Regions from separate parts of the Homo sapiens genome. Here region 2 is linked to region 1. Evidence: fine-mapped expression QTL. Tissue or cell type: neutrophils. Region 1 holds a variant in brackets; the other region holds the start of a gene. All regions are shown on one strand. Distances are between the middles of the regions.

What was found. PIP is the estimated chance that this variant, and not a neighbour inherited with it, causes the effect.
Region 2: it holds the start of SKP1, and the variant in region 1 is fine-mapped to the expression of SKP1 in neutrophils (BLUEPRINT, PIP 0.95).

Annotation. Positions count from the first base shown.
Region 1 is chr5:134,234,635-134,242,314 of GRCh38, reverse strand. No RefSeq gene overlaps it. Among named protein-coding and RNA genes, the nearest start is that of PPP2CA-DT, 12 kb to the right of the region's middle. RefSeq lists an enhancer at 1,557-1,606. The variant G/AG (reference allele first, on the strand shown) is at 4,418.
Region 2 is chr5:134,174,113-134,179,112 of GRCh38, reverse strand. It overlaps SKP1 (S-phase kinase associated protein 1), which reads left to right and starts at 2,163. Exons shown (of 6, transcript NM_170679.3): 1 at 2,163-2,258. RefSeq lists enhancers at 745-1,259, 2,163-2,412, 2,503-2,782 and a silencer at 1,933-2,012.

The sequences.
Region 1 (7,680 bases):
TGACACGTGAGTAAACAAGACTTCAGCTGCTTCTAGCTCCCAGTTGTGAAGTCATCCTCAGGCTGAATCTTCCCAGCTGAGTCCCTAGACAGCTTGGAGCTGAGAGAAGCCATCCCCAACTGGGTCCTTTCTGAATTCCTGACCCATAGACTCTGTAAACACAATAAATGGGTTGTTATTTTATGCCACTAAGTTTGGGGTGGCTTGTTACACAGCAATAATAACTAAAAGACCCATTATCTTCAACAACACCAAAAAGTAGGGCTATAAAAAAAAAAGGAAGAATTGTTATAAATTAAGGCTGGGCACAGTGGTTCAGGCCTGTAATCTCTAGAACTTTGGGAGGCCAAGGTGGGAGGATCACTTGAAATCAAGAGTTCAAGGCCAGCCTGGACAACACAGTAAGATCCTGTCTCCAGAAAAAAATAAAATAAAAAATACCTGGGCATGGGAGTATGTGCCTGTAGTCCCAGCTACTAGAGAAGCCGAGGTGGGAGGATCGCTTGAGCCCAGGAATTTGAGGCTACAGTGAGCTATAATTGTGCCACTATACTTTAGCTTGGGCAACAGGGAGAGATCCTGTCTCAAAAAACAAAAACAAAACAACAAGAAAAATAATACACATACACATATATACATGCCCACATATATATACACACACACATATGTATGTTATAAACTAAAAAAGACATAAGAGATATAACAAATACAAATGACATTGTTTTGCTTCTGATTAGAATAAACTATTACAGAATGACATTTAGGAAAGTCAGGGCAAATTGATTTCTGGCTGGATACCAGTTGATATTAGGAATTATTTTTAATTGTTTTATATGTGACATAGTGGTTATTGAAAAAAGTCCTTATTTGTTATAGAATTTATAGTATTTAAATATGAAGATAACCATGATTTGCTTTAAAATTTGCTTTAAAATGATGGTGAGGGAGGGGTGGGGTATAGATAAAACAAGACTGCCATATATTGTTAATCGTTGAGGCCAAGCAATAGGTAATGGGTGTTTATTATATTATTATCTCTACTTTTGTGAGTATTGAAAACTTCCCATAAGAAAAACTGAACATGCCTCTATGCATGCCTGGGGGCTTGTAAGACCCAGGATTCTACCCCAATATGGGGGATTTCATGCATGGAAACAGACTAGCAGAGAAAGTCATATTCTTAGGAAAAATGTTTTGGGCACTCCTTAAATCTTTGGTGACTAGAAATCCACTTGAAAACAGAATTCCCTTCCCTGACAGTACCTATTCCAGTGTTAGGTACACAGGGTGGGGAGGAGGGAAATTGATTGGAATTAAGAAACCTGATTAATTCAGAATTAATGCACCAGCTTCCTCTGAAGATTAGGTAGTATTCAATTTTCAGCCTTTCAGAAATATATTCGTCAGCATAAAGACAGGCGAATGGGCTGCATGTTGCTATGCAGACGACACAGTTTGGAAGGGCCTTCTGTTTGCTTATGGATTCGCTCTCCCTTGAAGAAAAACTATTAACTCATGCTGCAGCCTGCTGCTCTCTGCTTGGTGTTGGCTATGTCACCGAGCCCAAAATAGAAAGTTCTTTTACTGCAGAGAGGGAAGGAGGTTTAAATTTATCAATTCAAATAACAAAGGGTAGAATTATACTGGCTTTTCTCGGGTGGGGAGTAGGGGGAGATAATGCCTATTTCATTAGGAGAAAAAGTGATCTGACATTGGCAGGGGCTGGGACCAGAAGACAAGCTTGCACTGTGGTGATTGGGCTTGTTTCCCATCCTGGCCCCCCTCACTCCCTCCTTCCAACAGTGTCACCTCTTTCAGGACATGGGAAAGCATCTGAGCCACTGGGTAATCAGTTCCAGAAATATCACTGAAATTATCAGACTGGGAACGATTCTCTGAACCAAATCCCTTCTCGCTCAGCTTCTGAAACAGTCAGTACCTTACCACAAAGTTAAACAGCAGGGAGATGTTATCTTTCTCCTATGAAATGGTCAAAAATCTTTTAAAGATTCCCAGTGTTGGAAGGAGTTTGGGGCAATGGGCATTCTCCTGCATTGCTGGAGGAGAGGCAAACTGATCTAACCACCTGGAAAGCAACTTGACAACATAGATCCCAAACCATGGAAACATCAATACCAGAGGATATGGATCCAGAGGCTCTCTCATCCATGGCTGGGGGAAGCGTCAATTGATTTTCTAGAGAAATGCTTGCACGGGTACAACAGGAGACATTGACAATAATGTTCATAATAGCAGCGTGCGCAAGAACTAAATCCTAGAAACAATGCAGTTGCCCATCAGTAAGAGAGTAGATTATAAACTGCGGTATATTTATGTATTGGATTATTTTACATCAGTCAAAATGAATGAACTACAGTGAAATGCAATGATACAGACGGATTTTAGCAAAATATCAAGTGAAAAATAAAATAAATCCTGAAAGATTACATACAACATAATATCCTTTTTTATGAAACTCAGAACAATTTAAAAACTATTCTTTAGGAATATGTACAGATATTGGCCAGGCGTGGTGGCTCACGCCTGTAATCTCAGCACTTTGGGAGGCCGAGGCGGGGTGGATCACTTGAGGTCAGGAGTTCGAGACCAGCCTAGGCAATACGGTGAAACCCTGTCTCTACTAAAAATACAAAAGTTGTCAGGAGCAGTGGCTCATGCCTGTAATCCCAGCACTTTGGGTGGCCGAGGTGGGCGGATGACGAGGTCAGGAGTTCAAGACCAGCCTGGCCAATATGGTGAAATCCCGTCTCTACTGAAAATACAAAAATTAGCCAGATGTGTTGGTGCGCGCCTGTAGTCCCAGCTACTCAGGAGGCTGGGGCGGGAGAATCGCTTGAACTGGGAGGTGGAGTTTGCAGTGAGCTGAGATCATGCCACTGCACTCCAGCCTGGGTGACAGAGCGAGACTCCGTCTCAAAAAAATAAATAAATAAAAATAAAAATACAAGTTAGCCAGGTGTGGTGGGACACAGCTATAATCCCGGCTACTGGGAAGGCTGAGGCAGGAACCCAGGAGGCAGAGGTTGCAGTGAGCCGAGATCATGCCATTGCACTCCAGCCTGGACAATAAAGTGAGACTTTGTCTCAAAAAAAAAAGGAATATATACAGGTATAATAAAACTATATAAAAAGGAAAGCAAGGAAATGAGCACAGGATTCAGGATGATTGTCTGGGGTGGGGAGCAAGGAGATGGGGCAGTGGGGGCAGGAGGAACTATGGTTAGATATTAGTTTTGTCAAGGTCCTAGCTTTTGTTTGGGGTTATAAATTCACAGGTACTGATTACGTTATTAATGAATTTACCACCTAAATTAACAAAACCAGGCCATCCATATGCCAGTTATGAGAGTGAACCATGAACCAAGCATTCTGGTTAATCTAATTCTGTATACCTGACATTAAAAAAACAAAAACAGGGTATAGCATTTTGTGTAGTCAGTCAATTCACTTCTAAGCATTTATCTTAAGGAAATAAGCAGAGATGCATACAAAAATTTATGAACAAGAACATTTACCACAGTATTTATAAATATAAATATAGGAAATAATCTAAATAATCTAATACCAAACTAATAGATTAGTTATATAAATTGGGTTATATCAATGTGCTAGAAAACTAGGTACTCTCTAAAAATATTATTTTCTAATAGTATCTAAGTATATGAGAAAATGCTCATAATATGTCAGTTGAATAACACAGTACACAATATGAACCCAGTTTTTAATTTTCCCTAAGTATATATATGCACCAAAAAAGCTGGGAAGGAAGGGCTGGGCACAGTGGCTCACATCTGTAATCCTAGCATTTTGGGAGGCTGAGGTGGAGGATCACTTGAGCCCAGGAGTTTGAGACCAGCCTGGATAACATAGTGAGACCTCATCTCTACAAAAAATACAAAAATTAGCCAGGTGCAGCGGCAAGCGCCTGTGGTCCCAGCTACTCAGGAGGCAGAGGTGGGAAGATCACTTGAGCCCAGGAGGTCAAGGCTACAGTGAGCTGTGAACATGCCATTGCACTCCAGCCTGGGTGACAGAGCAAGACGATGTCTCAAAACAAACAAACAAACAAAAAACAAAAACAAAAAGACAGCCAGGAGCGGTAGCTCACACCTGTAATCCCAGCACTTTGGGAGGCTGAGGGGGGTGGATCACTAGAGGTCAGGAGTTTGACACCAGCCTGGCCAACATGATGAAGCCCCATTTCTACCAAAAATAAAAAAATTAGCCAGGCATGGTGGCCTGTGCCTGTAATCTCAGCTACTTGGGAGCCTGAGGCAGGAGAATCACTTGAAACCCAGAGGCAGAGGCTGCAGCGAGCTGAGATAGCGCCACTGCACTCCAGCCTGGGCGACAGAGCAAGACTCCATCTCAAAAAAAAAAGAGAAAAAAAAAAAAA[G/AG]CAAGAAAAAATTAAGCTGGGAATACTGTACATCAAAATGATAATAGCACTTATCTCTGGATGTTATGATTGTTTCTTCCTTAAACTTGCAGTAGTTCACAAATTTGCTATAGTGAAGATTAATTTTTTTTTCTTGTTGAAGGTTTTTTGTTGTTGTTGTTTTCATATTTTTTTTAGTAGAGACGGGGTTTCACCATGTTGGCCAGGCTGGTCTCGAACTCCTGACCTCAAGTGATCCGCCAACCTAGGCCTCCCAAAGTGCTGGGATTACAGGCATGAGCCACCACGTCCAGCCGTGAAGGTTTTTTTAATAACCAAAAATAATCATATTATAAAAATAGATGTTAGTAATAACTAATGTAGATAGAGTACTTATATGCTAAGAATTTTACAGAAATTAATTTAAAGCTTAAAATAATCCTATGAGGATAGTACTATTATGATCCCCATGTTACAGATGAAGATACTAAGATTTAAGGGGATAAACAGCTTGCATGAGGACACGGATGATAAGAAATGGTGCAGAAATGGTACCCTCTAGAATCGGGCTTCTAGAGGGTTCTTCAAAGGGTACCCAATGGTAGAGTCTTGGTCTCCCAAACCCAGAAATGGCTACACTCAGATGATTTCTCCTAGAACAGTACTGGGAACTGAATGGCCTGATGAGGAACCTGAAATTCACACAGAGAAAGAGGCCCCCTTGGGGTGTCTGAGCCAGAGCCGACACAAGGCAGCTAACCAGCGAATATAGAGAGGACAGACATGGAGGAGCCCCAGTGCCCAAGCCCCTGAGGGTTTCTTTTTTTTTCTTTCCTTTTTTTTTGAGACAGAGTCTTGCTCTGTTGCCCAGGCTGGAGTGCAGTGGCGCCATCTCTGCTCACTGCAACCTCCACCTGCTGGACTCAAGCAATCCTCACACCTCAACCTCCCAAGTAGCTGGGACAACAGTTGCCCACCACCACGCCTGCCTAAATTTTGGATTTTTAGTAGAGACGGGGTTTTGCCATGTTGCTCAGGCTTGTCTCAAACTCCTGAGCTTGAGCGATCTGCTCACCTTGGCCTCCCAAAGTGCTGAGGTTACAGGCATGAGCCACTGCGCCTGGCCCCTCCACAAGGTTTTCTTTTCTTTTTTTAAATGTTTATTTCTTGCCCCCCTGAGGATTTCTGATGAGCTCTTGAGAGAATAGGAGATCCCAGTGACTGGAGAGTCAACTGGAGGGCAGAGATGTTTTACTCATGGCTCTGACCAGCTCGGGCTCCCACCAGACAATGCAGGACTGGCTTCTAGAGCCTTCGATGCAGAGGAGGAGAGAGCTCTATGGATGGGACAGAGCCAAGGTCTCAGCTTTGGTCTCTTCTCATCACTCATGCTTTAAATATAAGCTCTAATGTCATCAAGGCACCAGAGATAAAATGCCTTTCTCAAGCTAAGCAGACAGGCTCTGGTATCCAATTTGGACAAGATAGTGGAAAACAGACTCAGGGGGAAAAAATCTCTTGGCCTCAGCACCAGCACATGGGAGTTGAATCTGACACCTTAACATTGTACAATAAACAAATGTAGGCATGGTTTCCTATGTTTTCTTCAAAACATCTAGAATAGATCTGATTGGAGGGAATGATTTTAACAATTAATTCTTCTCTCCTCAGCTGAAAAATTCTGGATTATCCTCCAAGATGTAACTAAACCATCAGCTTCTGTGGAAATACTTCCCAGCTTCCCCAAGCAACAGGGCCATCCCTCTTCTGTGCATGTTTAATAAATAATTTGTTTGCCTGTTGGACTGTGTGTCTCCCCTGAGCATAAGCTCGGTAGACAGTGTAGTATGCAACTTCGGGCTTGCCCTCCTTTCTCAGCACCCCTCTCTACCACCTCTCCTTCATATGCATTCCTATGCCTGCTGTGGGGTAATTGCTAATTAAATGTTGATTGCTGAAATAGAGAGCTATGGAGGTTCAGGAATGGTCTTCTAGATTTCCCAGAGCTGGGACTCAAACCCCTTTTTGGATCTCTGATGCTTGAGAGAATCTGATGAAAGCTAAGAAACTTTCCCCAGAAAAAAAAAAAGCACATGCAAAAGAAAATTCCCAATTGCATAGCACTAAATACCCATACTAACACACACACAATTATGTGCATGTAAAACTGGGGAAATCTGAATAAGATAGGTGAATTGAATCAATATCAATTTCCAAGTTGTGATATGGTACTATAATACTGCAAGATGTTACCACTGAGAAACTGGGATCTCTCTGTATTATTTCTTATAGATGCATGTGAATCTAAAATTATCTCAATAAGGCCAGGTGTGGTGGCTCACGCCTGTAATATCAGTACTTTGGGAGGCCGAGGTGGGCAGATCACCTGAGGTCAGGAGTTCGAGACAAGCCTGGACAAGATGGTGAAACCCTGTCTCTACTAAAAATACAAAAATTAGCCAGGCATGGTGGTATGCACCTGTAATCCCAGCTACTCAGGAGGCTGAGGTGGAGGAATTGCTTGAACCCAGGAGGCAGAGGTTGCAGTGAGCCAAGATTGTGCAACTGCACTCCACCCTGGGTGACAAGAGCAAAACTCTGTCTTAAATAAATAAATAAATAAAAATAATCTTGGCCAGGCCCGGTGGCTCATGCCTATAATCCCAGCACTTTGGGAGGCCAAGGCAGGTGGATCACCTGAGGTCAGGAGTTCAAGACCAGCCTGGCCAACATGGTGAAACCCTGTCTCTACTAAAAATTAAAAAATTAGCAGGGTGTGGTGGTGGGTGCCTGTAATCCAGGCTACTTGGGAGGCTGAGGTGGGAGAATCGCTTCAACCCGTGAGTTTGCATCGTGAGTTTGCAACCCGGAGTTTGCAGTGAGCCAAGATCACACCAATGCATTCCAGCCTGGGCAACAAGAGCGAGACTCTGTCTCAAAAATAAATAAATAAATAAACAAATAAATAATCTCAATAAGAATTTCCATTAAAAAACACAAAATTTCCATACATTATTTTTTCAGAGTTGATGGACCCCCCTGCTGAACCTACCCATGAATCCTAAATTGAGAACTCTCTAATATAGACCAATTTTTGCGTTGTTGGATGGGGAAACTGATGGGAGAGGATGTGTTCAAAGTCATTCAGATTGATGGTGAATAAGGAGATTGAACCCAGCTCTCCTTATTCTACAACTGGTTGCTAAAAGGAAGAGAGTGCTGTCCACATTGTGTTGTTTACTTGATTTAAAAAGGCAAGACAAACCAGTGTAACAGGGCAACTG
Region 2 (5,000 bases), 62 kb after region 1:
TGAGGATCACCTGGAGAACTGGTTTAAAGGGCAGAAAAACCTGCCCCCAGGGAGTTATTAGATTGAGAGTGGACCCAGGAATCTGCATTTTTCTTGAGCCAATTTATTTTTAAAGTTAAAAAATTTGAATATGTAATACATTCATGTGAATTGATACCCAAAAGATACAAAGGGGTATAAGGTGAAAAATTATTCTAACCCATCCCTCAGTGACCTAGTTCCCTTCCTCTGAGGTGACCAATTTCTTGTGTATCTTTCCTGAGATAATCTATACATATAGCACCATATACAAGCAAATGAAATATGTTTTATTTATTTTTTTGAGACTGGGTCTCACTCTATCACCCAGGCTGGAGTGCAGTGACACCATCTTGGCTCTCCGCAACCTCTGCCTCCTGGGCTCAGGTGATCCTCCCACCTTAACCTCCAGAGTAGCTGGGACTACACGCTCACACCACCACACCCACCTAATTTTTGTTTTTTTGTAGAGACGGGGTTTCACCATGTTGCCCAGGCTGGTCTCAAACTCCTGAGTTCAAGTGATCTGCCCACCTCGGCCTCCCAAAGTGCTGAGATTACAGGCGTGAGCCTCCACGCCCGGCCCCAAAATCTGTTTTAAAAGCAGACATTTCTTGGTGATTCTAATAAAGGGGGTTCTCAGACATATTTGGAAAAATATATCCCTACTTTTATGCCAGACCCTGTGCTGGGTCCCCGGGCTGTGTGACCTGACACTGCACAGTCCTGCTTAGAATGCTTAAAGAGAGTTAATAAGGTACCACCTTCTATGCCATAGGCGGGGAGCAAAGGGGCTCCAGTGGGCCCTGCCTAGGAGGCCTGAAGCTAGAGCTGCTGAGGGCAGGGCTGTGCTGCAAAGAAAATGTCTGAGAGCTGCAGGCGTTTCATCTTCTGTCATCAGCTGTGGCACCTGGCAGACACTGGATAGGCTTGTAGACAAAGACCTGGTAACTCAAGGAGCTGCTTGGCCTTCCTGCCCAGTCCCATCCCAGAGGCACTGTACATCTCTGGTTTCTTCAGGGGGCCCTGTGTGGAAGTATCTTTTGTCTTCCTGGTGTCAGGGATATCATCACGTGCCTGTTGGCTAGGCGAGCCCGGCGCCCAGTCTCCTAGGATGGGGAGAGTAATGTTCCCGAGCAGAACAGGGTGGGGCTTTCAGACTACTCCCTTTCCTTTACAGCTGGCTTCATTCCATCGACCTCATCAAAGCCTTCCTGGGAGCACCCTAGAGAAGAGTTACGTCCAGGCCGGGCCCTGGCTGCCTGGTTCACGGCGGAATCCCCAGCACCACGCCTCGCACGTCGGGCTCAAAGCATGTTTAGTGAAGGAGTAGGTACCTACTGCTAGATGGAGCCATCTCTCTAGACTTGGGGTTTCCCTATAACGATGGCTATGTTTGGCATGGAAGCCTCTTTAGAAGTCAATAGTAGGAAATAAGGGCTAACAGCACCTAATTGTGGAGTAAGGTTCAAATCCTAGCTCTGCCACTTAACCGTTCCGAACCTGTTCCCTCACTGCAGAGGCGAAAAGGCTAACACTATTTCACCTCGGAGGGTTACCGTGGAGAATGGAAGCTGGACAAGCTGTATCAGTTCAGTAGTAAAACACACACACACAAGCGCCCCACCCCCACCCCACCCCACCCCAGGAATGAACACACACACCCGCGCGCGCACATACACCTCAGGAATGAACACACGCGCGTACACACACACGCAGCCCCCCCCAGGAGTGAACACACACACACACGCCCCGTTCTGTTGTTCCCAGGAACACACACAGAGACGCACACACTCGCCCGGTTTTGTTTTTTCCAGGCTTTTTAACTGGGGTCTTTCACTCGGCTTAGGGCACCGCTGCCTGAAAGACCTTTCTAGGCCAGTCGGGGTCCGGCACCCAGTTGACGAGACAGCGCGGCGCTTTCAGAGCTGGGGAGAGGCGAAAACTCTTCCGGCCCCCCGATCCCCCGGCCAGCCGCCCCCGGCAGCTCCTTGCCGCCTCCCGGCCTGGGCCCGCCCAGCCGTTCTCGGCCTGCCGTCAGGCGATCTCGGCGGCCAGCCCAGCCGCGATGTGACGCCGCGCGCCCCGGGGTCCTCGGCGCCTGCGCCCTCTCCTATAAAGCAGACGCCGCGCCGCGCTGCGACGCTGTAGTGGCTTCGTCTTCGGTTTTTCTCTTCCTTCGCTAACGCCTCCCGGCTCTCGTCAGCCTCCCGCCGGCCGTCTCCTTAACACCGAACACCGTGAGTAGCCGCCCACTGAACTGGAAAGGGTCGTGGCTACCGGATTGCGTGCCGGCTGGCCTCACCGCTGCGGTTTGGGCCTGCCCGCGGCGGGCGGTGACTGGGCCTGGCCTTCTTTCGGGCCCGGTGGATCGCGTTGTCGACCCTGTTCTTCGGGAGACCCTACCAGGTTCCGTTCACCTGCCCCGCCCCCGACTCAGCGAGGCCTCCTCTGGCCGGGCGTCCTCACGGCGCTCCATAAGTGAGCCGAACCCCGGGCTGGGCCTTCTCTGCACCGGCCGAGCGTCAGCCGGCGCGGAGCTCGGCTGCAAGGCCCAGGCTGCGGCCGGGGGCCTCTCTTGGTCTTAAGCCTGCTGTCCCGGGGACCAGGGCGGGGGTGGCGGCGGGGTTGTGAATGGGGGTCCCTTGGCTGTCGTGAGCGTGGGCGTGTGTCGGTGTCTGGCTTTTGTTGTGGTCGGGAGGGAGAGCTGCGGTGGTGGTCTGAGGCCGCCCGGTTCTTGGCTCCCATCCTTTCTCCACCGTGTCTGGCGTCACTAGCTACCGGTCGGTCCTGGCTAACCGTGTGCGGGCGCCGGCTTTCTGCACATAGCCGCCTGCTCCATCTGAATATTTCTTAGCGTTGTTTTGCCATGACTTGGAGTCGTTGAGCAGATACCATCGTCAGAGTGGTGTGACTTGTAGGAGCCTTAACTGTGTATAACTTAACTCTAGGTATCTGGCTTTTAAAGAAATAGGACGTCTACCTGCTTTGATTCACTTTTAATGGAAACTTCACGTTTGGGTTTTAGGGACATGCATTTTTCCTTTAGAGCGTGACAGTAGAATGTATCCGTTTCATAGAACAATACCGTCTCCTCCACTGTGCAGTCTAAAAAGCAGTGTCAGAATTTCGGGTCACTTAAAGCGCAGGGGTTTTTTTTTCTATATGATGTGATAGAACCCGCTTTATGCTGGCCATGGAGAATTATTTACAAGTGCAGGAGCCTTTAGGCCTCTTTCTTTAGAATGGAATTGTTTTGAAAGCATTTCAAATAAATATTTCATCCATTATTACTTAAAAATTTTGCACTTTATTCTACTGTAACACTAAAACTTATCTTTGAGTTTAGTATTACCAAGTGCATCGAATTACAGATTAACCGATTGACCAGCTGCTATTTAGTAAGGTCTCAACTCCCTTAAGAGTAACCCAATCCACAAACTTGACTATGACTAAGCACTTATCTTGAGTTATTTGAAAGAAATATGAAACGGTCGTCTTGCTTTTAGAGTAATTTTAATCAACTGCATTGTTAGATTTGTGATTCTGCACTGTTCATTTCAGTACTATCTAATATAAAAATTACATGTTTAAATGTTTTATAATTAAAAATTGGGCTCAGGTTAAAATATTTTCTTTTGGAGATACCTTTTGTTGTGGTCTTGTCACAGGAAGGGTCCTCTACTCTGCATCCTTCTCCATTAAGCAGGGACAACTGCATTATTGGCAAGCGCTAAGCAACATGGAGAAGCAGACATGTTTGTGAATCGCAAAGTGAAATCTGATTCTCTCCAACTATGGATGAGTGAGAGTAGGATATTTCAGTGGCTGGTTTTAAAACATGCTTTACTTTTTTGCTTCCTTTGCCTAACAACCTGTTTGCTTTGGGGTTGGCGACAATTGTCTCAGAGAAGCTGAATGAATATTTTAACCGATGTAATGGGTCATAAGTCTTTGAACATAAAATGGGTGTGATGCATGTTTTAAATGCCAAATGATACACTTTTGGGAAAATATATGCGATTTGTAATACAACACACCTAGAAAACTTCAGAGGTGCCATAAGTTAATAGTGACATCACCGGATTATGAATACTTGAGAAGCATGGGCCTTTTAAAAGTTGTATGTGAGTTTTAAGAGGCCTTGAATTAATCTGTACCAGGTATTGCTATTCTTTTTGTTGTTGTTGTTTTCCTTGTTTGTATGTTTTCTTTTTTAAAAAAAGAATTTGAAGATGGTAAGAAATTGTTGGACTTTTAATTTTAAATGCCTTTTTTTTTTTTTTTGCCAGAACTCAAGTCCTTTGAAATTAAATGCTTAACTTTTTATGTAAGATTATATCTTTTTCCTAACGACTCATAATTAATCTGAATTAATAAATGCGTTTTCAGAGCAAGTAATAGGTTATTATTATGGAGATCTTGCCAAGAGATCTCAAAGTTGGTCACCTGGACAGTCAGTACTGAAAGATAAAAAGGGCTCTGAAATGAAGCTTTTAAGTAGATTTAGGGAATTGTACTCACATCTGCTTATCTTTAAATCATTTTATTCTCTTGTATATGGTCTTGCATTGCCTCAGACATAAATGAGCATATTCTGATGTACTCTTTGGATCTGAACTCATCTTCACAGGTAGGACTCACTGTGGGGAAAATTTCTATCTTATTTAGTAGCGTTGTTTGTTTTGGACTGACCTTCCTCAGGTTCGCATGTAGTTAATTGTGGCAGTTAACTGTTCAGATGGAGTCCAGTATTCAGTGGGAGACGAAAGGCAGGCAGAAAGCAAATACAAATATGTATGTTTTATTAAATTTATACCAATAGTGAGTTCAGTAGGGCAGGCCTTAAAAGCTTCTGTTCCTAGTAGTTATACTTTGAAAAAATTTTAATAGAAATACTCGGAGACTAACTTGTGAATAACTGCTTACAACAGTGCTTTACAGGGTTATGTATTGTAGGTTCTTAGAACTTTGTGGTCAAT